Linked DNA regions of Homo sapiens. The protein of the gene in region 2 purifies or fractionates together with the protein of the main gene of each other region. This does not show direct contact. Each region holds a gene or a part of one and is shown on either strand. Other genes may lie near its edges.

Region 1 (3,500 bases), about 190 Mb from region 2:
ACAAAAAAACCTTCTCACACTTGTTATCTTGTTAAAGGTTAAAGGTGAAAGTGAATTTTAATGACTGTAGTTTTGATTTGAAACCTTTGGCAAGAGCTCCTTATCTTTTGGAATCCCAGGAAGAAGAAAAAACAGTTATTTACAAGTAAGTCTGTTCTTCCATAGCTTTGCTCTTCTTTTGCTAAGATGCTAGGCTGTGCTGCCATCCCCTGCCATCCTTTCATGTTGCTGAGACGGTGCTGAGGCACACACAAAGCTCCATTGTGGCAGGACACCGGGCATCTCCTACCACTGTGTCTGGTGAGGTGGCAACACTTCCCAGGCTTTTCTGGTCTTAAAGAACAAGTAGGCTGGGTGCGGTGGCTCCCGCCTGTAATCCCAGCACTTTGGGAGGCCGAGGCGGGCAGATCACCTGAGGTCAGGAGTTTGAGACCAGCCTGGTCAACATGGTGAAACCCTGTCTCTACTAAAAATATAAAAATTAGCCAGGCGTGGTGGTGGGCAACTATAATCCCAGCTATCTGGAAGGCTGAGGCAGGAGAATTGTTTGAACCCGGGAGGCAGAAGTTGTAGTGAGCCAAGATTGTGCCACTGCACTCCAGCTTGGGCGACAGAGCAAGACTCTGTCTCAAAAACAAACAAACAAAAAAACCAAACAGCAACAACAAAACAAGTAGCTAATACAGAAATAACAAACACAGAAATGGAAAAAAAATTGTTAACAACTTGTACTAAAGCTAAAAGGTTAGGAGATTTAAAATTGAATTGGAGTAGTATAAATGGAGTTTGGGACTGGTTTGGGTGGGTAGTAGCTGTTACAATGTTGTACCTAGAGTGAAAGATGTTGTTGTAAACAGAGAATGGTACATACTATCAAATACTATGTATATAATGTGGGGAATCATCTCAGCTAACTAGTTTTAGAATTAAGAGATTTCTCTACATAATTATGTATCTTGTGACTATCTGGTTAAAAGTCGTGCTGCCCCTCAGATATTGCTGGAGGGAATGTAAAATGGTGCAGCAACTTTGGAAGGCAGCTTGGCAGTTTCTCAAGATGTTAAACATTAAATTATTATGTGACCCAGAAATTCCGCTCCTAGGTTTCTACTCAGGAGTAATGAAAACATATCCACATAAAGGCTAGGATATGGATGTTCATAGCAGCATTATTCACAACAGCCAAAAAAGTGGAAACAACCCAAATGTCTATCAGCTGATGAATGGATAAACAAGATGTGGTATATCCATACAATGGAATATTACTTGGCAATTAAAAGGAAAAAAATACTGATACATGCTGCAACATAGACAAACTTCAAAACCATTGTACTCAGTGAAGGAAGCCAATAACAAAAAGCTACATATAGTATGTTTTTTTATACAAAATGTTCAGAAAAGGCAAATCTGTAAAGACAGAAGGTAGATAGTAGTTGCTTAGGGCTGGGGATGGGAGTGGAGAGTGACTTAATGAGCATGGAGCCTTGGGGTTAATGAAAATGTTCTAAAATAAGATTGTCGTGGTGGTTGCACAACTCTGTAAATATACTAAAAACCATTGACTTGTACACTTAAAATGGGTGAATTTTATGTCATATAAATTACACCTTATTAAAATTGTTCATAATAATAATAAAAAAGGAACCTAGCAAGGTGCAAGAAAAGTGAGCTTTTATGACTTTCTAGGAGATCGGCTTACAATTCTCTGTTCCTAAAAAGTGCCCGAAGTAAGCTGCAGTAGTTTCCTTTTCCTGAACAGGTTCAGAATTTGTTGAATAAATACAGTGTGGCAGAAGCTGGAGGGCTTTTAGAGATGCTGGTATGACCAGCAGAGAGAACAACTAATTGTCTCCTGAGGACCTTAGTGATGTACCGTAGAAACAGATGACAGCTGGGGAGGGCGTTGGCCAACATGGGCTCATTGTCCTTGAGGTGTGGTTTAACCATTTGCTGGGTTGTTTCTTGAATAGGAGCCACAAGTGAGGGGAAAAAGGAAGTGTCCAAACTAAGCCCTATTCCCTTGGTAGCTGAAGGCCTTAAAAGACAAAATGATTGATTGAAAAGAGAATTGAGACTCACTCTTGCATATTAGGGTCCAAAGGAGTAAGTTCTTCTGCAATCCCTAATTACCAGAGTCTCAAATAGACCTGTTTGGGTAAGATTTTACAATAATCAGCATCTTAATTCTATTTAATTTTGATAAATGATATAAAAGGAGAGATTTTGTTCTCAAATACATCTTCTAGCAAAGCGAGACCCACGTGTGAAGGAGGATATTGCATTTCTGGAGTAGTGGGTTCCTGTATTTTAGACTAGAGGCTTAAGTCTAGGCTCACTCTAGAAGAAAGAGGAAGACTGGATTCTCTTCCATGAATAAGGGAAGCATCCCAATTCTGGCAGCAGGGGTGGAGAAGGCATATTTGTCCTTGGCAGAGTTAGACCTTCTCAGGGAGGGCAAACTGGACAACTCTATGAGGGATCATTCACTCCAAAGGACCCAAAGCTGTTTGATTAAGCAGCACAGAGATTACAGCTGAAACTATGACTAGAGCAAGGCAATACTATTTATTTGGGTTTATTTTCACACAAAAAAAGTAAATACGTTTATTTTCATAAAAATACACAAATTCACATAGAACTCATCAACTTCAAATTTAAATAAAAATATTAAGTGCTACAGTTGAGTTGAGAGTTAAGAGAATCCCTTCCTTTCTGGTTCCTTCCTGCAGAAACAAAGGGTCATCCTTTCTAGAAAGAGAACCGCTGTGCTATCAGGAGGGAAATAATCCAAGTGCCAAAGAGGCCATCTCTGAAGGGTATTTTTCTTCCTTGAGCCTCAGCCAGGAACGGGAGGAAGACCAGGATGGGTAAGAGCTGGGGCTGTCCCATTTCATCATACATAAGGTGGCAATCGCTGATACCAAAATCTGAGCACCTGGGAACTTTCTTTGTATGGCAGGCTTCCAGGAAGAGAGGAGGCAGTGGGGAATAGGTTAGAAGCAGCTGAGGGGCAGGTGCCCTTTATTCAGAGGGAATGGAGAGGGCTGCCCTGGCCCCCTGGTGGAGTCACACGATGAGGGTGCCCCCTGGTGGAGCCACACGATGAGGGTGCCCCCTGGTGGAGCCACACGATGAGGGTGCCCCCTGGTGGGTGGGCCACGCTGTCCAGGATTTCCCCAGCCCCTCTCTCAGTCCGCCATCTCCACCCTGTCTCTACCATTTACCACTTAGCATAGCCAAGCCAGGCCCCACATTTTGTTAACCTTAAGGCAGTCAAGATAGGTAGAAAATTTTCAAAAGGACCAATACTAAATTCAAGTAGTAAAATTTAGGAAGTGAAAGCCCCCATATTGAGAGATTGCCAGCAGCAGAGAGGAGCACCCACGCTTCCTCACTCGGCACCTTGTGACTCCTGGATTGCATTAGGGCTGAGTGAGGGCTTGTTCTCTGTGGACCCTGGAGTAGGCCCTGTGACTGGTGGAAAGGATCCCGGGAAAAAA
Region 2 (4,189 bases):
TAAATTTTATATTGACTCATTTTGTGCCCCGTCCTAAGCAGTACTATCTGCACATGCTGGTTATATTTTTTTAACACAGCCTAAAACAAATATAAAGCTACTGAAATAGACATATTTTTTCACGAACCATTAGAATCAAAATGCATGCTATGGACAATACATACACCGTGTTTTGGGAAACACTGCACTGCATAACAATGATAAGAATAAGATTATAGACATTTATAGCTAAGCCTAATGGAAGAGCAGGTGCCAGAGCTCATTATTTTTTCTGTTACCAAGAGAGTCCCCTACTCTTTTTTCTAAGTCACTCTGTGATGCCTTTTTTTTTTTTTGACATGGAATTTCGCACTGTCTCCCGGGCTGGAGTGCAGTGGCACGATCTCGGCTCACTGCAACCTCTGCCTCCTGGGTTCAAGTGATTCGCCTACCTCAGCCTCCAAAGTAGCTGGGATTACAGGCGCCCACCACCACGGCCGGCTAATTTTTTGTATTTTTTTTTTTAGTAGAGATGGGGTTTCACCATGTTGGTCAGGCCGGTCTCGAACTCCTGACCTTGTGATTTGCCCACCTCGACCTCCTAAAGTGCTGGGATTACAGACATGAGCCACCGTGCCCGGCCTCTGCAATGTCTTACACATACTTTGTTCACGCTTTATACTGGGTAGTCCAAGAATCCTCTGAACTATGTAGGGTGCAGCAGGCATTTCGATCCCCATTTTAGAGACAAGAAAGGTAATGTAACTCAAGGTCCTACAGCTACTAAGTGGCAGAGCTGTGATGACAATTACGTGTGCTAACAGAGAGTAGAAGCTGTCCCTCCCCCAACTGGCCTCCATAGTGCTAAGAAGGAGTCCTTTCAGGGGGCTTGCAGGGGCACCTGGCTCAGCAGGGCATCCTGCAGGGTGGGAGTGGCGGCTGCAGCACCGTGTGGATGGAGAGTGAGTACAGGTTGGGCAGAGCCGTGGCCTCACCTCCAGCATGGTGTCGAAGATGACTAGCTTGGAGCTAGTTGCCATGGCATCGTAGCAGGTGTGCTCCTGCATGAAGCGCATGTAGATCTGGGCGCCGGGTTTCCGCAGTTCGTCATCCCAGCCCAGCTTGGGAAATGGGGCCTGCGGGGACAGGCACAGGGCAGGCCTCTCTTCCAGCAGGCCTTCTAGCTCACACTCCCAGGCCTCTGTGGCTGGGAACTCCGTGGCCAGCTCCACATCATCTGTGCTGGAGCCTGCAGCTGAGGCTGTACAGTCAGAGGGGAGGCAGTCCCACCCTGTTGGTGGAGTGCCCACCCCGGCAGGATCAGCTTGAGCCAAGGGTGTGGTCTTGGGGAATGTGGCCTCCAGCCCGGTGGACTCAGCAGCTGGCCTGGACCGGGGACCTGTTTGGGGGAGGAGGGGAAGAGGACAGTAACTCCATCTTCCAAAGCACGTTCTCATCTGCTGTCGCCATTCATCTCACAGCAGCAGTGGGAAGCCTGGATGCTGTGGCCCTATTTGCAGGTGAGGGGCTGACCTGAGAGTCGCCCCAGGTAGTGGCTCTGTCCCATCTTTCTGAGTTGGCCATGCTGGCCTCTGGCACTGCAGTGCCTTGTTCTCTACTATGTAGGGAGACTGAGGCCACAAGATGAAGGTTGGGTCCAACTCTGTGTTATGGAGGGACCTGAGGTAGAGACCAGACCCAGGCTCCTCTGGGATTTCCCACTCCCCTGGCTCCCACCTCCCCAGAACTGGCCTTGGCCTCACCTTCCCCCTGACCTGGTGGCTCCCCTTCCTCCACCGACTTCTGCCTTGTCCATCTCAAGGCTTTGGCCCTCCGTTTCCCACGGATTCTTTCTGAGCTGCTGGTCACAGCTGGTGATGGCCATGAGCTGCTGTTTTCTTGCTCTAGGAAGCTCATCTCTGGAAGGGGAATGGGGCCTGTTTGGTTAATAGGGAGTAATGCATCAAAATCAATTCAAATGTTATTCATAATCTTTAGGATTTGCAAGCTTCCAATGGGCTTTTCTCCAACATATTTCTCATTTAAAACTTACAGCAGCCTTATAAAGCAGGCATTATTATCATCCCTATTTTGCTAGTGAGGGACCAGAAATTCAGAGAGGTTAAGCAATTTGCTGCAAATCACACAGCAAGTAAGTGGGAAAGTCACTTCTGAAAAGAGGAAATTGGAGGTGAGGGAAACACACCTGGGGAAAGGAGGAAGAACAATGAGGAAGAAAGACCAAAAGGAGGAAGATAAAAGCCAGGCTGGGAGGGAATTGGGGTCCCAGAAAAGTGGGGGACAAGGAGGTGGGGGAAGAGGTTAGGCCCCAGGGAGGGGGCATTCTCCCTACCTTGATGCTCAGAACCCCCAAGGCTGCTCCAGGAAGGGGTCTGTGGGGAGAAGAGTTTCTGAAGGAGTGGGGAAAGTGCCTTACATTCCCAAACCCCTTCTCCCTGAACACACGCCTACACACCCATGCACACCAATACACACGCTCAGACACACGCCATACACAGACATGCAGCCATACACAAACACACACAGAAACACACACATCCAAACACTCCCAGGCACACAGAACCACACACACTCACAATACATATGCCCAAACATGCACATGCCCATATTCACGAGAAAATCCAGACCAAACACACACCAGAAGACACACACGCCCACACACACATTCACAGCCCGTGCGCTCAATCTTCTGGCCTCAGCTGCCCCGGCTCCGGCTCCCCTGGGACCCCCATACCCTGCGCAGTGCGTGCTCCAGCCCGGGCTCCATGTGGCCAGCCCCAGACCAACTGAGAGCAAGTGTGCGACACTGTGGCTGGGCTGCACTATTCTGGGCCCGGCCCCGGGCACCCTGCCCTGCCAGGATCGGTTTCTCTCTGATTGGGTGTCAGGCAATGAGAGGGAGGGGCCCCCATTTGCTCAGCTGCTACAGCCCTGAAGGCTGGGGGTTGCTGGGAGGGAAGGGGCGCACCGGATAATCTGGGTACTTGGTCCTCAGCTGCCTCCTGGGTCACTGAGGACAAGCTAGAGGGACCCTTTTTGAGGGGATGTGGCTTGGAGCATGTGGGAACATGGTCATTGAGCAGAGTTGGGCTCTCAGAGTCCTGAGCCCCTATTCCAAGAGCCTCCCTCATCTTTATCAGGCACCAAAGAAGGGAACATGGAGGCAGATCAGCATAACTTTCTTCCTTGTTCTAATTTCAGTAGAGGGTGGTGCTGGAGTTAGAAAGGGCAAGTTGCAGCCAGCTCAGAGGCTGGAGATGAGGCAAGGGGTTTGTGGGTAGTCCAGGAGAGCAGCTAGTGTATGTCCAGATGTCCAGATTTGAGTCCCTGGAGTGTGTCCCTCTCTCAGGTGAAGGAGATGGAGTGGGTGTTTCAGGCAGGTGAAGAGCTGTGAGAATCACCTCGAAGGCGTGGGGAGCACTCAGAGCTCCCCGCAGGGGAAGAGACATCTGTTTCCACCTGTGGTTGGGAGATATGCCTGGGTGTGCAGGTGTCCCAGCCCCCAACCCTCTGTGAGTGCTGTGCCTACATCCCTGGTGCCAACAGGATCCCAGCCTGGCTCCAGTAGCTGCCACCCTCTTCCTTGGCATTCCCGGAGCCTGAGTCAATGTCCGGATTGGGAATGCTGACCCAGCTGCTCCGGCTTTCCTCTCTCTGCCCCTCCCTTTCTCTCCTCCTTCCAGCCTCTTCCATCCCAGCCCTGGCCCTGGAGTGGACACTCAACAACAGACTGGTGAATTTCTGTCTGAGTTTATTACATGTGTTTTCCATCAACCCTCAATGTTCCTACTCTGCCAATGGGGAGGGTGGAGGAGAATGGAGTTGGGAGGACAGCCTTGGCCAGGGCTGTTCCTGTGGTCCCCAGCCTTTCTCAAGGACATCTGCTCACTGGACAGTGGGAACTGGCTCAGAGGACAGAGATCAGTGTAAGAGAATTTCCTTCACACCAAGCATGTTTTTTCAAATGGACTCAAGATAGCCACCACCAGTTTGAGAGAAAGGAGAGTAGGAAGAACACCAAGTCCAGAGTGTTCAAGCATAAAAATAAGGTCTACATGAGGCCATTGGCTGTGGTTACTCAAACATGGAGCCACTCAGAAGGCTTCTAAGATTGTGAGGGTGTTGTATTGGCAAAGAAACCATAAGCCTGATCAGCAAAGCCTGGTTTGACACCCCTTCCCTTGCCTTA
Region 3 (3,500 bases), on a different chromosome or scaffold from region 2:
GTAGAGAAGCAGGCAACCTCCTCTCATGTTTGTGGAAAGACCACTAGGTTTTGCATCAATAATATGTCATATATTAGTTCAGGACAACAAACTGGCAGCCCCGTTCCATTAAAGGATCATAATTCCTTTGAATGTACTGCCACTAGCCTTTGAGGGATGTTGAGTTGTGGTATAGCCAGGCCTGCCTAGGACTGGGGTATGTGGCCAGCAGCATCTGCAAGGATGCTCTATCACCCACCACCCTATTGCCCTGGTGACACCTCCCTAGTACTCACAGGCAGTGGACCACAGTACGTCCCTCCCTCCCGTCATACTGCTCCTGCCACTTCTCCAGTCGTCGGACCACTTTGAGCAGAGAGCGCTTGGAGGGGGGCGTGTCCCGGTAGGCAGGCCAGCCAATGTACTGGAGGTGCTGGACTATACGATAACCATCCTGTGGCTGAGAACAGAGAGGCTGTTAGGGCTGTTCTGCTGGGGATGCTTGCGTACATGCACCTTGCAGATACCCCGGGGACTGCAGCATCATGGTGGAAGACAGACCAAATGGGATCTAAGCCATGTCCTCACGGGGAGAGTCCCCATGACTACTTCTATTCCTTCGTGTACACAGATTCTCTTGCCGTGACTGCCCTGAACCCCCTTTTGTACCTGAAAAACTCCTGCTCAGCCTTCAAAACCCAATTTAAATGTCCCTTTCTTTAGGAAAGCCTTCCCTGACTCTGTTGGGCAGAGTTTTTTCTCCCTGAGGCTCATGTGCCAGAACATGTCTCACTGTCTCAGTGGACAGTGAACTCTGAGCAGGGGGGTAGGGGAGGTGCTGAGCTCCTTTCATCCTGGGCCCCAAGTAGTGACCAAAGCTGCATTAGTTAGCAACCATTTCATAGATTGCTAATCTGCCCCTCCCACCCACTACTCTGCTCAGCCAGTGAACATCCTCATGGAAGTAAGTAATCACTTTTCATCTAGGTGTTGGCAGTGCCTGGCCCAAAGCTTATGGGATCCAATCAAAGGCTGCATCAACTCATGCCAGTACAGAGACACAGTGGGGAAGAGCTAATGTCTAAGAAGTTTTGTCTACACGGCAGCAAGTGTGTCAGGAAACAGGCAGATGGCAGGTTGGATGTCGCTCGTTGCATCTCTATGTGTTGGAGTCATTGCTGAGTCTGGAGCCGGAATCAGCACAGGCATCACTTCCTCAAGGAAGAAATTATCAGGAGAGCACAACACAGACTCTTGGCTGGCTCAGCGGGATCCTCTCTCGGCAGCCTCCATCTGTCTTGGGGAGGAGGGGCTCAGCAAGCAATGGCGGCCGTGTACTTACCCGGGCCATGTTACAGATGCGGAATATTCTGTGGATGATGTCCTCGTCGATGTCTGCGGAGACGAACTCCACCTGGATGGGCCCATAGCACCCGGAGGTCTTCTCAGGCCAGTACTGCATACAGAACTGAGATAAGGAAAGAGGTCACAGAAGGAGCTCAAAGGCAGGGGGCGGGTATCAAAGTCTCATTTATCAACAAGCTTTTCTTTTCTTTTTTTCTTTTTCTTTTTTTTTTTTGAGATGGAGCATCACTCTTGTTGCCCAGCCTGGAGTGCATTGGCACGATTTTGGCTCACTGCAACCTCTGCCTCCCAGGTTCAAGTGATTCTCCTGCCTCAGCCTCCCAAGTAGCTGGGATTATAGGCACCTGCCACCATGTCTGGCTATTTTTAGTAAAGATGGGGTTTCGCCGTGTTGGCCAGGCTAGTCTTGAACTCCTGACCTCGGGTGATCCACCTGTCCCAGCCTCCCAGAGTGCTAGGATTATAGGTGTGAGCCACTGTGCCCAGCCGTCACCAAGCTTTTTTTATGGCTGGAAGGACACATTGGCCAGAAAGGTAGAGTATTATGTAGGAAATTAGACTCAGTTTCCCCTTTAGGGAGCAGCCATCCACTTTTTCTGGTGTTGAAATATCAAGGCTTTGAGCACAGAAACACTGGGCTTGCAAATCTTTGCTATGTTGATTTCAAACCATTTGTTAGGTTTGCTTAACCTGAGTTTCCTCATCTGTAAAATGGGGAGAATAATATCTACCTCTAAGCCCCGCTGTCAGGATTAGATAGAACATGCTAAAGAAAGGGCAAGTACCATCTATTTTTCTTTTCACCACGCAAATCATCACAAGCTCTTCCTCATTCCAGGAAAACCTTCATAGTGTTCATTCATGATCAGATCAGAAGTAGTGTAAAAAATATAGGGGTTTCGGGAGGCGGAGCTTGCAGTGAGCTGAGATCGCGCCACTGCACTCCAGCCTGGGTGACACAGCGAGACTCCATCTCAAAAAAAAAAAAAAAAAAAAAAAAAAAATATATATATATATGGGTTTGACCTCAGGCGGCCTTGGGTCCAAATCTGGTCTCAGGTGCTCACTAGCTGTGCAGCCCAGGCCTCAGTTTTCTCATAGGTAAAGTGGGGATAATTATGCTTACTTTGCACCAAAAGTTAATGTCACATGGTGCTGACAGATCTTGCCTATGATTCTTTCTATTTATCTGGAATTGGAAATTAGAACCTACAGCTGAGAGCAAAAGGCAGTGATTGACCTTCTGTTTAAGACAGTGGTTCTCAGTCTGAGACTGTTTTGTTTCCCAGAGGGCATCTGGGCAATGTCTGAAGACATTTTGATTGTCACACCTGCGGGTTGCTATGGGCATTTAGTGAGTAGAGGAGAGGATGCTACTCAACATCCTGCAGTGCACAGATTAGCTCCCCCCGAGAGTTATGTGGCCCCAAATATCCATAGTGCAGAGACTGAGAAAACCTAGTATAAAATCATTATAATTATTATTATTATTATTTTTGAGACGGAGTCTCACTCTGTTACCTAGGCGGGAGTGCAGTGGTGCGATCTTGGCTTGCTGCAACCTCTGCCTCCCGGGTTCAAGTGGTTCTCCTGCCTCAGCCTCCCAAGTAGTTGTGACTACAGGCATGTGCCATCACACCCGGCTATTTTATTTTTTTTATTTTTATTTTGTGTTTTTAGTAGAGACAGAGCCTCACCGTGTTAGCCAGGATGGTCTTGATCTCCTGACCTCGTGATCCACCCACCTTGGCCTCCCAAAGTGCCGGGATTACAGGTGTGAGCCACTGCACCTGGCCATAAATTATTCTTTAAGCTTCAGGGGTCATTGAGAAGAAGAGATGGAGGCTGGGTGCGGTGGCTTACGCCTGTAATCCCAGCACTTTGGGAGGCCAAGGTGGGTGGATCGTGAGGTCAGGAGTTCGAGACCAGCTTGGCCAAGATGGTGAAACCCGTCTCCACTAAAAATACAAAAATTAGCCGGGTATGGTGGTGGGCACCTGTAATCCCAGCTACTCAGGAGGCTGAGGCAGGAGAATCACTTGAACCCAGGGGGCAGAGGTTGTAGTGGGTGGAGATCACGCCACTGTACTCCAACCTGGGAAACAGAGCAAGACTCCATTTCAAAAAAAAAAAAAAAAAAAAAAATAGAAGAAGAA
Region 4 (3,500 bases), on a different chromosome or scaffold from region 2:
GGAGTGCAGTGGTGTGATCTTGGCTCACTGCAACCTCTGCCTCCTGGGTTCAAGCAATTCTCCTGTCTCAGCCTCCTGAGTAGCTGGGACTACAGGTGCACGCCACCATGCCCGGCTAATTTTTTTATTTTTAGTAGACACAGGGTTTCACTATATTGGTCAGGCTGGTATTGAACTTCTGAGCCACTGTGGCCAGCCTAAATTATTTATATTCTTCGTCACATATATTCTTTATCACAGCTATTCTGAGAGTCAGGAATTGTGATTATTTCTACTTCATTAATGAGAAATCCAAGACCCAGACAAGTGAATTGACTTGCTCAAGGCCATAGTAAATGGTAGAGCCAGTATTCAAACTCAGGTCTGTCAAAATTCACATTCTGTATCGCTGTAATTAATGATTCATTAAGAAAACTATACAGGCCAGGTGCCGTGGCTCACGCATGTAATCCTAACACTTTAGGAGGCCAAGTCAGGAGGAACACTTAAGGCCAGGAGTTCAAGACCAGCCTGGGCAATATAGGGAGAACCCATCTCTACAAAAAAATTTAAAAAATTAGGTGGATGTGGTGGCATGCAACTGTAGTCCCAGCTACTCAGGAGGCTGAGGTAAGAGGATCACTTGAGCCCAGGAGTTCAAGGCTGCAATAAGCTGTGATTGTGCCACCGCACACCAATATGGGTGACAGAACGAGACCCTGTCTCTTAAAAAAAAAACTATATATATTCGTGTTTTGAAAGAACACTGGAAGCAGAAAATATGAGACTCTAAATTAGAATATCTAAAAGGCAAGATTCTAGGTATTTTGTGAGTATGTATTTTTTAACTTGCCAAGCCTTCATCATTAGTAGCATCATAAAATATTTACTAAGAAGCCACTATGTTTTTGTTTGTTTGTTTGTTTTGTTTTGTTTTTTGAGATGGAATTTCACTCTTGTTGCCCAGGCCGGAGTGCAATGGCGCAATCTCCGCTCACTGTAACCTCTGCCTCCTGGGTTCAAGCGATTCTCCTGCCTCATCTTTCCGAGTAGCTGGGATTACAGGTGCCCGCCACCACATCCAGCTATTTTCTTGTATTTTTAGTAGAGACAGGTTTTACCATGTTGGCCAGGCGGGTCTTGAACTCCTGATCTCAGGTGATCTGCCCGCCTCAGCCTCCCAAACTGCTAGGATTACAGGCGTGAGCCACCGTGCCTGGCCAGAACCAACTATGTTAATATGGAGAAAAATGAATCTTTACCTATGTCATAGTTGACAGAAAAGTGACTGACAAATGTCACTTCCTACTTTTCAGTGACCTTTTAATGAAAATAGGAGTGGGAAAGTTGAAGAAGGCAAAAAAGATGTCTGGCTGAGAACATTCTTGGCATTGTCTAAGTATATTTCACATGCAGTCTTCAAATGAAAATCAAAATACACAACCACTGTCTACAAGGAGTTTTATACCAGACACTGCATTCTCCAAATTGGGTTTCTTAGTACACTCTTCAGAAAGAAAGTATGTATTTTGGGAGAAAAGGGTTCATGGATAAACTGGGTTGGTAAATGGTACATACAATATCATTTCCTTCAAAATTCACAATGCCTAATAACACATTAAAGGTTCTAAGGAATCCTGAGGTAAAAAGGCCTTATAAGGCCAGATGCAGTAGCTCAGGCCTCTAATCCCAGCACTTTGGGAGGCTGATGCAGGAGGATCACTTGAGCCTAGGAGTTTGAGACCAGCCTGTGCAACATAGGGAGGTCTCACTTCTATTAAAAATAAAAAGAGGCAGGCCGGGCGCGGTGGCTCACGTCTATAATCCCAGCACTTTGGGAGGCCGAGGTGGGCAGATCACGAGGTCAGGAGATCGAGACCATCCTGGCTAACACGGTGAAACCCCATCTCTAAAAAAAAAAAACGCAAAAACTAGCCGAGTGTGGTGGCGGGCACCTGTAGTCCCAGCTACTCAGGAGGCTAAGGCAGGAGAATGGCGTGAACCTGGGAGGCAGAGCTTGCAGTGAGCTGAGATCGCGCCACTGCACTCCAGCCTGGGCAACAGAGCAAGACTCCATCTCACAAAAAAATAAATAAATAATAAAAAAATAAAAAGAAGCTGAGCATGGTGCCTGACACCTGTATTCCTAGCACTTTGGGAGGCCGAGGTGGGCGGATCACTTGAGGTCAGGAGTTCAAGACCAGCCTGACCAACATGGTGAAACCCCGTCTCCACTAAAAATACAAAAATTAGCTGAGCGTGGTGGCATGCACCTGTAATCACAGCTAGTCGGGAGGCTGAGGCAGGAGAATTGCTTGAACTCAGGAGGCAGAGGTTGCAGTGAGCCAAGATTGGGCCACTGCACTCCAGTCTGGGCAACAGACTGAGACTCTGTTTCAAAAAAATTAATTAATTAATTAATTAATTTAAAATTTTTTAAAAAATAAAAAGAATTAGCCGGGCAAGGTGGTACGCATCTGTGATCCCAGCTACTCAGGAAGCTGAGATGGGAGGATGACCTGGGCCTGGGAAGTCAAGGCTGCAATGAGTTGTGATCGTGCCACTGCACTCCAGCCTGGGCAACAGAACAAGATCCTGTCTCAAAAAAAAAAAAAAAAAAGCCTTGTAATCATTTTTAAACCCATTCCCATTCCCAAACTTATTTGGGCAAGAAACCAGTTTTTTGGCGCTTTCATCCTTCTAACAAGTGCTTTTGGGGCTAAACTGTAGAATTGTAAATTCACATTTTTTAAAGATTGTCATTTTTTGCTTTTGTTGGATTCAGTGGAATATTTGGGTTACAGACTGCAATAGATCTGGATAGATAACTATTTATGGTTACTTTTATAAAGAAAGGATTCAAGAAACTAGGGACATCAGAGAAAGCTCAAGTTAAAAAGGAAAGCCCTCAGAGTTGCCTTTTGTTCTGAAAAAGGCTATGGGAATAAAGATTTCAAAAACAGGATTAATCCTAATGAATGGCAAATGACCTAGTGACCCATACACGCTTGCTAATGTCTGTCAAGTCTTGACAGGAGGCAAAGTGAGGCAAAGTGAGTCAAAAGACCGTTCAGCTCAAGAATATACTCTTTATTCTAGTTACACCCAGACCAAAGTACAGCAAAGAGAGAAGACAGGCTTGCAGACCATGAAAAAAAAATCAGCTGCCCTCTCTAATAGAATTTGTGATCTATTTCAGCATTCTTCTGGAACAGCATTTGACACACTACAAATCTATCATCATCAACACTGAAACATCTCTAGATGAGAATCTACTCAGCTAAGGAACTTGAGGCAAAGCTAGGGCTCTGAAGCCAAAACAAACACAAAAAGGTGGCTTTCGCCCTCCCATGAACCTGGGTTAGAATCCCCTCATCTTTTAGCACCCTAGAGTAAAAGCACTAGTTACGGGGCATTTATATTCTGGCAAGCACTATTATGCCAGACCTGTTTGGTCAGTGATCTGTACAAACAGGCTGGAGATTGGAAAATGACTCAGGGCACAAGAAATCTGAACGTCT
Region 5 (3,500 bases), on a different chromosome or scaffold from region 2:
TGAGACCCTGTCTCTACAAAAAAAAAAAAAAAATATATATATATAGATATATAAATACATACATTGTGAGAAACAGTAAAATGATTTTTTTAAAAAGAAAATGAAAATAACTTATACTTATCATATTGCCCAAGTAAAACAAGCATTTAGAAAAAAAAAAGTATGGTATATTTAAAAATGTTAGATCTATTGTTTTATGACAGTCAGTTTAACTTACCTTATAATTCATTTATAATTTAGAAACTGAGATGTTGAATAAGAACACACTGTTCTTGTTTTAATAGTATATATAATCTGAAGAAAAATGATTCTGAAAAAACAAAGTATATTAATAACATACTAACATTCAGAGTAAGAGACATATAGCAAGATTTTATAAATTATCTTTAATCATATAAAAGGCTGTTTAAAAAGATCTAATGGCAGATTAAAAAGAGAATTATGAATATTTTAAAAACAAAGGTACCACCCAAAGAAATACATAAAATTTATCAGAGGCAAACACTGCCAAACATAAGACACCACTTAAGCAAGAATACTGTTCCCTTGAAGGGGTGAAGAAGGCTTCTATTATTAGCAGAGATAACTGCCTGAAATTCTTTCCTTAATAACACCATACTAAAAATAAAAAGGTTCATCATATTTCAAAATAAACACATTGCTTTTCATACGCATTTCAATCACTTCAATAACAGATAAAAATAAAAGCCTGATTTAAGGTTTACATTTCTCTTATATTTGTAGTTGATAAATACACTAGGTAGATTTGCTCTCATTTTTATAACATATTTAATGCTTTAAGGGTCTTGTGCCAGCCACTTACTCATTATTTCTTAAAGGATTTGAGATTAGATCTTCCTGCTAGGTCAAATTAAATTATCTGCTTGGCTTCAAAAATTATTAATACTTCCTCTACAAAATATTTTCTCTATCATTTAGGAAACCACAGGAATCTCAGAAGAATAAATGGGGTGGTATTATTATTACAAAGCAGTACCAAATGCTTTCAAGAAAGCTAACATGGACCACAAGGTAAGTGGACATTTTGGGATGTTTTTACAAAAAGAAGCAAGATAAAGCATGGTTGTGTCAGCATGAAAAAGGGAGAAAGCTCATGGAACTGAGGTAATTACCTCAATATATGACCAAACTACAAAATCCTTTCTAATTTATATGGATATGTTAAGATAAAGTTTGGTAGAAAAGCATTTTTAGCTCAGAGTGTATTATCTGAACTGAAAATATATGTATAGCCTCATTTTGGTTCTACTACAAGTGGACCAGGACTTTAAAATGACCCATTCATACTAAATGCCATCTGCTGCCCACACTTTCCCCCTTCCCAGCTTATGCCTCTTTCCTCCAAGAGTTTCTATGATGGATACCATGGGATCTGGAATACATACATACATATATATGTATGTATACAAAATATATATAATGTGTTTGTGCCTTCCAAGTGATGCACAGAAGATGGTGAAAAGTGAGCAGCTTCTAGAGAATTACAGGTTTCTGAACACATTCATTTGCAGAAATAAGACCAGAGTAAAACAAGACAGGAGGTAGTGAATTCTTCCCTCTCTCTCATCAATAAATTTCTGGTCTCAGAACCAGATCACAGATTATTCTCATAGTTCAGCTAATTGTGGGTTTAAGTACATAATGGTGTCTACATACACAAAAGTACATAAGTACTTCTGAGTGCTTTTTCATCTATGTACATTTTCTCATGTACTTCTCACAACACTAGAAGAGAACATATGGTATTATTCCCATTTTTACAGATTGAGTTTGACCACATAGCTGGTTTATGACAAAACAAAGGTTCCACACCAGGTCTTCTAAGTTCAACATACTACAGAGAGTATTTATACTACATCAGGCTGCCTTTGTGGACATACTATGAAAATAGCTACCATTTATAACATTGTTTCCTATTTAAAATACCCTTTGAAAGTCAATCAACTGGCTACACCAAATGAACAAAATCCATTCAGATATTAAGGACACAATTCAAAAATCATATAAATTATATATATATTATATATATCTATATATATCAGCAAGAGAAACCTAAATAGCACGTATTTACCTAATTGTGAGAATAATTCAACTGATTTTAATTCAATCACTAATCTAGTATTTGAGAAGAAACATAATTTCATTATTTGGAACCAATATTTAACACTTGTTTAGAATTTGCATAATTTCAAAAGTAAAATCAATTTACTGTGAATGTGTGTACATTCACTTTTATTTAACTATTACTTCCATTTCATTCTTGTTTCATTCATCTTCCATATTTGGGAAAAAGCAAATTACATGACTTAGTCATACAGGATATTGTTTTTAATATAAACATTAATAAGTATCATAAAGCACAGATAAAGTAGTCATTAAGAGCTTTCTTCAACCTAGGCAACCACAAAATAGGGGCAGATTACTACAGCTCTATCTCAATGTTGGTGTGAGAACTGAAGGCATTTCAATGGAAAGTAAGTACTTTCTAACACAGGGTGCAGAATTTACCTACAATTGCCATGCATCTCACCATCTCCACAAGTGTCATCTATCTGTATAGCATTTTATCTTTTCCAAAGCCATTTTATATACCTCAACTCATTTGATCTTCATAACTATTCCAGAAGGTAGGCAGGACAAGTATGATCATTGCCATATTACGAAGGAGGAAACAAAGGCTCAGCATCTAATGGTTTTTCCCAAAGGTGAGACAACTGGTAGTAGAAATGGAATTAATTCCAGAGCTAATACCTTCTTATACCAATGTTTTCTTCTAGAACATCAAATCATTTGTACAAGTTCTCTTTAGTCTGGTTACTAAAGGTTACTGGCAATCACTAGTCAAGATTACCTTTATAGCCTGTAATCCCAGCACTTTGGGAGGCCGAGGCAGGTGGATCACAAGGTCAAGAGAGCAAGACCATCCTGGCTAACACGGTGAAACCCTGTCTCTACCAAAAATACAGAAAATTAGCCGGGTGAGGCCGGGCGCAATAGCTCACGCCTTTACTCCCAGCACTTTGGGAAGCTGAGGCGGGCGTATTACGAGGTCAGGAGATCGAGACCATCCTGGCCAACATGGTGAAACCCCATCTCTACTACAATACAAAAAATTAGCAGGGCGTGGTGGTGCACGCCTGTAGTCCCAGCTAGTCGGGAGGCCGAGGCAGTGGAATCGCTTGAACCCAGGAGGCAGAGGTTGTAGTGAGCCGAGATCGCGCCACTGCACTCCAGACTGGTGACAGAGCAAGATTCTGTCTCCAAAAAAAAAAAAAAAAAAAAAATTAGCCAGGCGTGGTGGCAGGCGCCTGTAGTCTCAGCTACTGGGGAGGCTGAGGCAAGAGAATGGCGTGAACCCAGGAGGCGGAGCTTGCAGTGAGCTGAGATAGCACCACTGCACTCCAGCCTGGGCGACAGAGCCAGACTAGTCTCAAAAAAAAAAAAAAGATTACTTTCATATCAGTAAACACACTGAAATC
Region 6 (2,459 bases), on a different chromosome or scaffold from region 2:
TTTTCTTTTACAATAGTCCATGTGTAATACTTTTAGCTCATCATCTCCAAACTCCTTCCATGAGTAACTTTTTGGTATATGATGTTTCCTTGTACAGGGAATTCCTCAGACAGCCGCATAAGCCCTAGTCCTAGTGCTCAGAACAATGACACGTCTGCCAATATTTAACACTTTTAAAATACTGTTGGTGGTGGTTGTGTTGATGATGAAAGGCAGTGGGGAGGATGGCCTGGGTTCAATCTCTAGCTCCGGGCTATCAATGTATATAACATGGAGCCAATAATGTCTACCTCACAGAAATACAGATTATAAAATAAAAAGTAAAAGCATGTGACACCTAACTGTACAATAAATGTGTGAAGCTGTTTAAGTCCAAACATGGATCATTACATGTAAGATGGCCTATGTGTGAACATCAGCAGCTATCACAGCCACGTTCACATATATGTAAATTATCAAGGGGCATTACGCTTGGCACTGTTTAAAAGAAAGCAGGCAAGTGATCAAGTGAATTTTTATTACAAAAATTTTATAAAAATGGATTTCCAGGTAAAGATGGCAGAATAAAGCAGGACTACAGAATATTCTTCCTCTAATGCCTAATAAAATGAATAAAAGATGTTACATGCCACAGTACATTTTTCAGATCGTTACTGATAAATCAGAAAGCTTTATGAAAATCCAGATGGAAGGAAACACACAGTTCTGCCATGCATATTAAGATGCATTCACTCTCCTGCCCTAATAATTATCATATAACCTTATGGTAGACGATAGTCAATTAGTTGCCAACCAATACTTAAAAATTAGATTTCATATACTCTAAACTTCTGTCTTTTCTAGAAAAATAAATTGTTTACACTAGGCCTGCTTCCCAGGAATCATGTGCTCCAGTTTACCGAAGTCTCTACAACTCTTACCTTCGTTGCTTGCCCAGCTCCTGTAAGCACTTGCAACCCGTAGGTGGGCATTAATTCCCATTCTTACAGAGAAAGAAAATTTGAGGCTCAGGAAGAACAAGTGTTAAGTTACAGTAGTAGAGGCTGGGTTTCCATTCAGGTATTTCAAATAAGTGATACATTTTTCCATACTCTACCAACTGAAAATAAGGTGAATTCACCTTTGATCCCACTTACTGCTCTACTCTGCCAGGAGCCAGTTTATATGCGTGAGAATGAATGTTTCTCCTAACACACGTGTATGATTCTGTGCTCTTAGGCTACAAAAGCCATGCAATATGAATTTTTTATTCTTTCTGTCTAAAAGTATGTGATCAGAACTTGCCACATATATGTTTGCCCTGCTGTAGACCAAGAACCACTTTTTGGGACACTAAGTCAAAGCTGCTTATTGTATCTCATGGTTGTGTCAAAAAACTACACAGTATCATACTTACGTGCTGCACTTTTAATTTTATTAAAAAAGAAGCAAGTATCTTCAACATACCAAATGCTTTCACATTTCTGCCTGCAGGCACTGACCACAAAAATACAGACCCAACACAACAAAAGCAATTAACACAAGATAATTAAGTGGTAGTTACAAGTGGTGGGCAGGGGAAAGTGCAAGAGGCCAGCTGGCTGAGCAAGTGGAGTCATCACATGTGTCCTCAACATTGTGGGTTTAGGGATCCAGTGCAATCAGTTCACTTCTAAGAGGACTGGGGTTGAGGACTCGAGCTAGGCTGCTCTAAACTTGTACAAACAGAATTACAAATCAGAGTGCCAATTTATCTGTAGGGTTTGTTTAAGCAGTTCAGATCTGAAAGACTGCTGGCAGAGCCCTGAACTGGACTGAGAACAAACGTTTTTATGAGCCATCATCATCCACCTCCACAAAGTGCCTGCCTTACTCTAGGGTTTTTCTCAGCCAAATCTACTCATCTGATCAGGATGCCCTCTTGCCTGGACAATGTCAGAGGAACAAGGAAAACAACTGAGCTTTCCAGCTCTTCCTTTTCAACATTCCATGTTAGTCACCAAAAAGTAACACATAATGGAAATTCTCTAGATTACAGCTTATTTCCTGTTTAGTGCATTCTGTGTTGATGTCGTCCTTTAACAGTGAGGTAGCTCAGGGCATCCTTAGAGAGACTGAAGTGTTCTTGGTCTGATATCTGATACCAGCAACACATTTCTTTCTTTTTTTTTTTTTTTGAGATGGAGTCTCACTCTTTGGCCCAGGCCCCACTGCAGTGGCACTATCTCGGCTCGCTGCAAGCTCCGCCTCCCTGCAAGCTCTGCCTCCCGGGTTCACGCCATTCTCCTGCCTCAGCCTCCCGAGTAGCTGGGACTACAGGTGCCCGCCACCATGCCCGGCTAAATTTTTGGATTTTTAGTAGAGGCGGGGTGTCACCGTGTTAGCCAGGATAGTCTCGATCTCCTGACCTCGTGATCCACCTGCCTCAGCCTCCCAAAGTGCTGGGATTACAGGCGTGAGCCACCACGCCCGGCCTTTTT
Region 7 (3,500 bases), on a different chromosome or scaffold from region 2:
ATATATTCTCCAGTAGGTTCCTGAGAAAGGGTGCACAAAGGTTAAATTTTTGGAGACTTAGCCTCATGACTGTCTAAATTCTACTGGTGATCATATCCCCAAAAGACCAAATCCCTAATGCCATAATCCCAAATGTTGAAATACTGAAAGATCAAAATCTCTAAAAATCAGAATCCCTAAATTCTAAAAATCTCACACATCTGAAATCCTGAAAATCAGAATCATGAAAGATTAAAATCCCAAATGTTGAAATGCTGAAAGCCAACACCTGGGGTAGAAATTAGTGCACATTCGGTTGTATGAAAGATAGTTGCATCATTTTACTTGCATCATATTAGGTGGAACCGATTGCCTTTTTATTGTATTTATTTGGAAATTAAGTATGGTTTAAGGAGATGGTTTATGGGTGCCAAATTGACGAGGGGTGGATTCATGGATTTAATTTTAGGTGTCAACTTGACTGGATTAAGAAATACCTAGAAACTTGTTAAAGCATTATTTTGGGTTTGTCTGTGAGGAGATTAGTATGTGAGTCTGAGTGGACTAGGTGGGGAAGATCTGCCCTCAATAGCGGTGGCCACCATTAAATCTGCTGGGGGCCCAGAGAAAACAAATTGTTGCCTTTCTGAGAGCTGGAACGGACTTTTCTTCTGCTGAATTGAACATCAGAACTCCAGGCTTGTTGGCATTTGGACTCTAGGACATACACCAGCAGCCCCCTGGGTCCTGGGCTTTCAGCCTCAGACTGAGACCTGGTTTGGCTTGGTTCTGAGGTCTTTGGACTGAGCCAAGCTACCAGCATGCCAGGGTCTCCAGCTTGAAAATGACCTGTCCTGGAACTTATCAGCCACTATAATCGCATGAGCCAATTCCCCTAATAAATCGTCTCTCATATATCTATGTATATATATATCTTATTGGTTATGTCTCTCAAGAATGCTGTCTGTCGAGAATTATGTCTGTCGAGAATGCTGACTAATACGGATTTGGTATTGAGAAAGCCAAATATCATTCCTTCTTACTGTATTCCTTACAGCACAGTGGAAGAGACCTGTGAAATTGTTCCCTTGCAAAAAGGCTGTGATAAATTAAGTATACCAGGCTACTTAATGCTGAAAGAGAAAAGTTTAAAAGCTAATTATTATTGGTGTTGTGAAGACAGAAAATCACTTAATTGCAATGGCCAAGCAATAACCAGATTTCTAAATGGTCAGCATATACTTACAAAATATTTAGACCACAACCGCTCTAGTCTAAACACAAGTGAATGTTTTGAAGATCATAGAAGTGAATATGCAGGTGAAAAATATAAGAAAGCTCCCCTGCCAAATTATTCAATCAGGTATGACTTCTGCCCTTTCACACATAGTGCCAATTTGCTATGCTATGTATTTTATCTTTGCATCATTTCTAATACTGCAGGTATAAATTCTGTAAAGGCTTTTAGAGAATTCTAATTCATTTTATGCACTTTTTTTTTGCATATTTGACTCCATGAAAGTGCATTATCACAATGTGACGTAATGTGTAAGCATTGTGCATGTACATAAAAATGTTGAAACTTGCTCAGTAAATGAAGAGATGTCCGTTTTGTTCATCTGTATTTGTGAAAGATAAAATTTCTCAAGATCTTGGCTCTTTGGGTGACTCTATTGCAGTTTTTGTGCAAACGGTAGTGACCCATTGCAGTTTTTGATCGATCTTGTCAGAAGATTCAGGTTGTCTGGTATTTCAGATGACCGCAGTTATGAATCTGGGTGCACCTGATTACCAACCATAGTGATACGTGTTTATCCATTTTGCTTTTTAATCTATTTCTTCATGAATACATTTTCTCTGTTCCTATTATACCCATGCAATGGTTGTTAGTATACCTGAGTATTTATGCTTGCAAAAATATGTTATTAGTGCCTATTTTATTGTGTAAAGGGGCCTATGAACTGTTCCGTTGTGTTTTTATGTTTCTCAAATAAATCTTTTAAAAATGGAAATAAGTGTCTTTTAGAGAACTTTTTACAAATTATTTTTCCAGAATTCAATTTTTTGGATTTTGTTCTTTTGGGATTGTGATTTTTGGAATTTTAGATTTTAGGGATTTTGATCTTTTGGGATTTCAACATTTGGGATTATGGCATTTGGGATTGTGTCTTTTGGGATTATGTCCTAAACCCAAATTCTGTCACCACCGACTGTCTAGTGATAACATTTAAAATGGAAAGATAAAATGACTTGATTTTTTTTTTCCCTTTATTTTTAACTGCATTTAAAAAAATAGAGGCTGGGCATGGTGGCTCACACCTATAATCCTAGCACTTTGGGAAGTTGAGGCTGGTGGATTGCTTGAACTGAGGAGTTTGAGACCATCCTGGTCAATATGGTAAAACATCATTTCTACAGAAAAATACAAAAAAATTATCTGGGTGTGGTGGGGCCTGCCTGTAGTCCCAGCTACTTGGGAGGCTGAGATGGGAGGATCACCTGATCACCTGAGCCTGGGGAGGTTAACGCTGCAGTGAGCTCTGATTGTGACACGGCACTCCACCCTGGGTGATAGAGTGACACCCTGTCTCAAAAAAAAAAAAAAAAAAAAAAAAATTAAAAAACAGGAAAAAAAATTTAAAACACAGAGAAACCAAAAAAACTAGAAACCACATGCACATGAACCAGAATTTCAAAGGTATAAGAGGTTATGGATGGGGAAATGTATCTATGACATGAGAGAGTCTTTTGGGATGATGGAACTGTTCTGTATCTGACTATATAATGCTGGTTACACCAATTTCTATATGTTTTAATATCCATATAAATGATACTAAAAGAAAAATTTTAGTCTGTGTGTATGATAGGTTAAAAGGTGAAAAATTAAAAGAATTTAAAAATACGAAAAGGTATACAGCAAAAAAGTCTCCTTCCCCTCTTCCTTTAGTCTTCTAGCTTTCTCTTCTGGAAGAAACCACTGTTACCAATTTCTTATGTATTCTCCTATGTAATCACTCTTAAACATCTGAACATTTGGGATGAATCTGGCAAAAGAGAAAATAACTTATATTTGCTTAGCTATTTTCTGAGGATGCTAGATGACTACTCTTATAATATGTCTAAATATATTATTATTTTTATTTTGTTGAGGCAGAGTCTCAATCATCACCCCAGACTGGAGTGCAGTGGTGCAATCTGGGCTCACTGCAACCTCTGCCTCCCAGGTTCAAGTGATTCTCCTGCTTCACCTCCCAAGTAGCTGGGATTACAGGCATGTGCCACCACTGCACCCAGCTAATTTTTGTATTTGTTTGTTTGTTTGAGACAGAGTTTTGCTCTTGTTGCCCAAGCTGGAGTGCAGTGGTGTGATCTCGGCTCACTGCAACCTCCGCCTCCTGGGTTCAAGCGATTCTCCTGCCTCAGCCTCCCGAGTAGCTGGGATTACAGCTGTGTACCAGCACGCCTCGCCAATTTTTTGTATTTTTAGTAGAAACGGGGTTTCACCATGTTAGCCGGGCTGG

The links.
Region 1: the proteins of PRKAG3 (region 2) and FAM228B purify together in Homo sapiens (affinity purification with mass spectrometry, with the first as the bait; one large-scale study listed by BioGRID). This does not show direct contact.
Region 3: the proteins of PRKAG3 (region 2) and PTPRT purify together in Homo sapiens (affinity purification with mass spectrometry, with the first as the bait; one large-scale study listed by BioGRID). This does not show direct contact.
Region 4: the proteins of PRKAG3 (region 2) and ZNF436 purify together in Homo sapiens (affinity purification with mass spectrometry, with the first as the bait; one large-scale study listed by BioGRID). This does not show direct contact.
Region 5: the proteins of PRKAG3 (region 2) and PRKAA2 purify together in Homo sapiens (affinity purification with mass spectrometry; 4 studies listed by BioGRID and IntAct, with this or other methods). This does not show direct contact.
Region 6: the proteins of PRKAG3 (region 2) and DGKE purify together in Homo sapiens (affinity purification with mass spectrometry; one large-scale study listed by BioGRID and IntAct). This does not show direct contact.
Region 7: the proteins of PRKAG3 (region 2) and PRKAA1 purify together in Homo sapiens (affinity purification with mass spectrometry; 4 studies listed by BioGRID and IntAct, with this or other methods). This does not show direct contact.

What each region holds. Positions count from the first base shown.
Region 1 is NC_000002.12:24,161,469-24,164,968, forward strand, and holds part of FAM228B (protein FAM228B), read left to right. Parts: intron 1-37; coding exon 38-145; intron 146-2,729; coding exon 2,730-2,867; intron 2,868-3,500.
Region 2 is NC_000002.12:218,829,004-218,833,192, forward strand, and holds the start of PRKAG3 (5'-AMP-activated protein kinase subunit gamma-3), read right to left. Parts: upstream 2,801-4,189; 5' UTR 2,768-2,800; coding exon 2,735-2,767; intron 2,373-2,734; coding exon 2,333-2,372; intron 1,899-2,332; coding exon 1,743-1,898; intron 1,379-1,742; coding exon 975-1,378; intron 1-974. UniProt on the Homo sapiens protein: AMP/ATP-binding subunit of AMP-activated protein kinase (AMPK), an energy sensor protein kinase that plays a key role in regulating cellular energy metabolism.
Region 3 is NC_000020.11:42,084,407-42,087,906, forward strand, and holds part of PTPRT (receptor-type tyrosine-protein phosphatase T isoform 2 precursor), read right to left. Parts: intron 1,448-3,500; coding exon 1,322-1,447; intron 440-1,321; coding exon 276-439; intron 1-275. UniProt on the Homo sapiens protein: May be involved in both signal transduction and cellular adhesion in the CNS.
Region 4 is NC_000001.11:23,363,337-23,366,836, forward strand, and holds part of ZNF436 (zinc finger protein 436), read right to left. Parts: intron 1-3,500. UniProt on the Homo sapiens protein: May be a transcriptional repressor.
Region 5 is NC_000001.11:56,651,814-56,655,313, reverse strand, and holds part of PRKAA2 (5'-AMP-activated protein kinase catalytic subunit alpha-2), read right to left. Parts: intron 1-3,500. UniProt on the Homo sapiens protein: Catalytic subunit of AMP-activated protein kinase (AMPK), an energy sensor protein kinase that plays a key role in regulating cellular energy metabolism.
Region 6 is NC_000017.11:56,867,609-56,870,067, reverse strand, and holds the end of DGKE (diacylglycerol kinase epsilon), read right to left. Parts: 3' UTR 501-2,459; downstream 1-500. UniProt on the Homo sapiens protein: Membrane-bound diacylglycerol kinase that converts diacylglycerol/DAG into phosphatidic acid/phosphatidate/PA and regulates the respective levels of these two bioactive lipids.
Region 7 is NC_000005.10:40,777,875-40,781,374, reverse strand, and holds part of PRKAA1 (5'-AMP-activated protein kinase catalytic subunit alpha-1), read left to right. Parts: exon of another isoform or gene 1-20; intron 21-1,036; exon of another isoform or gene 1,037-1,293; coding exon of another isoform or gene 1,294-1,342; intron 1,343-3,500. UniProt on the Homo sapiens protein: Catalytic subunit of AMP-activated protein kinase (AMPK), an energy sensor protein kinase that plays a key role in regulating cellular energy metabolism.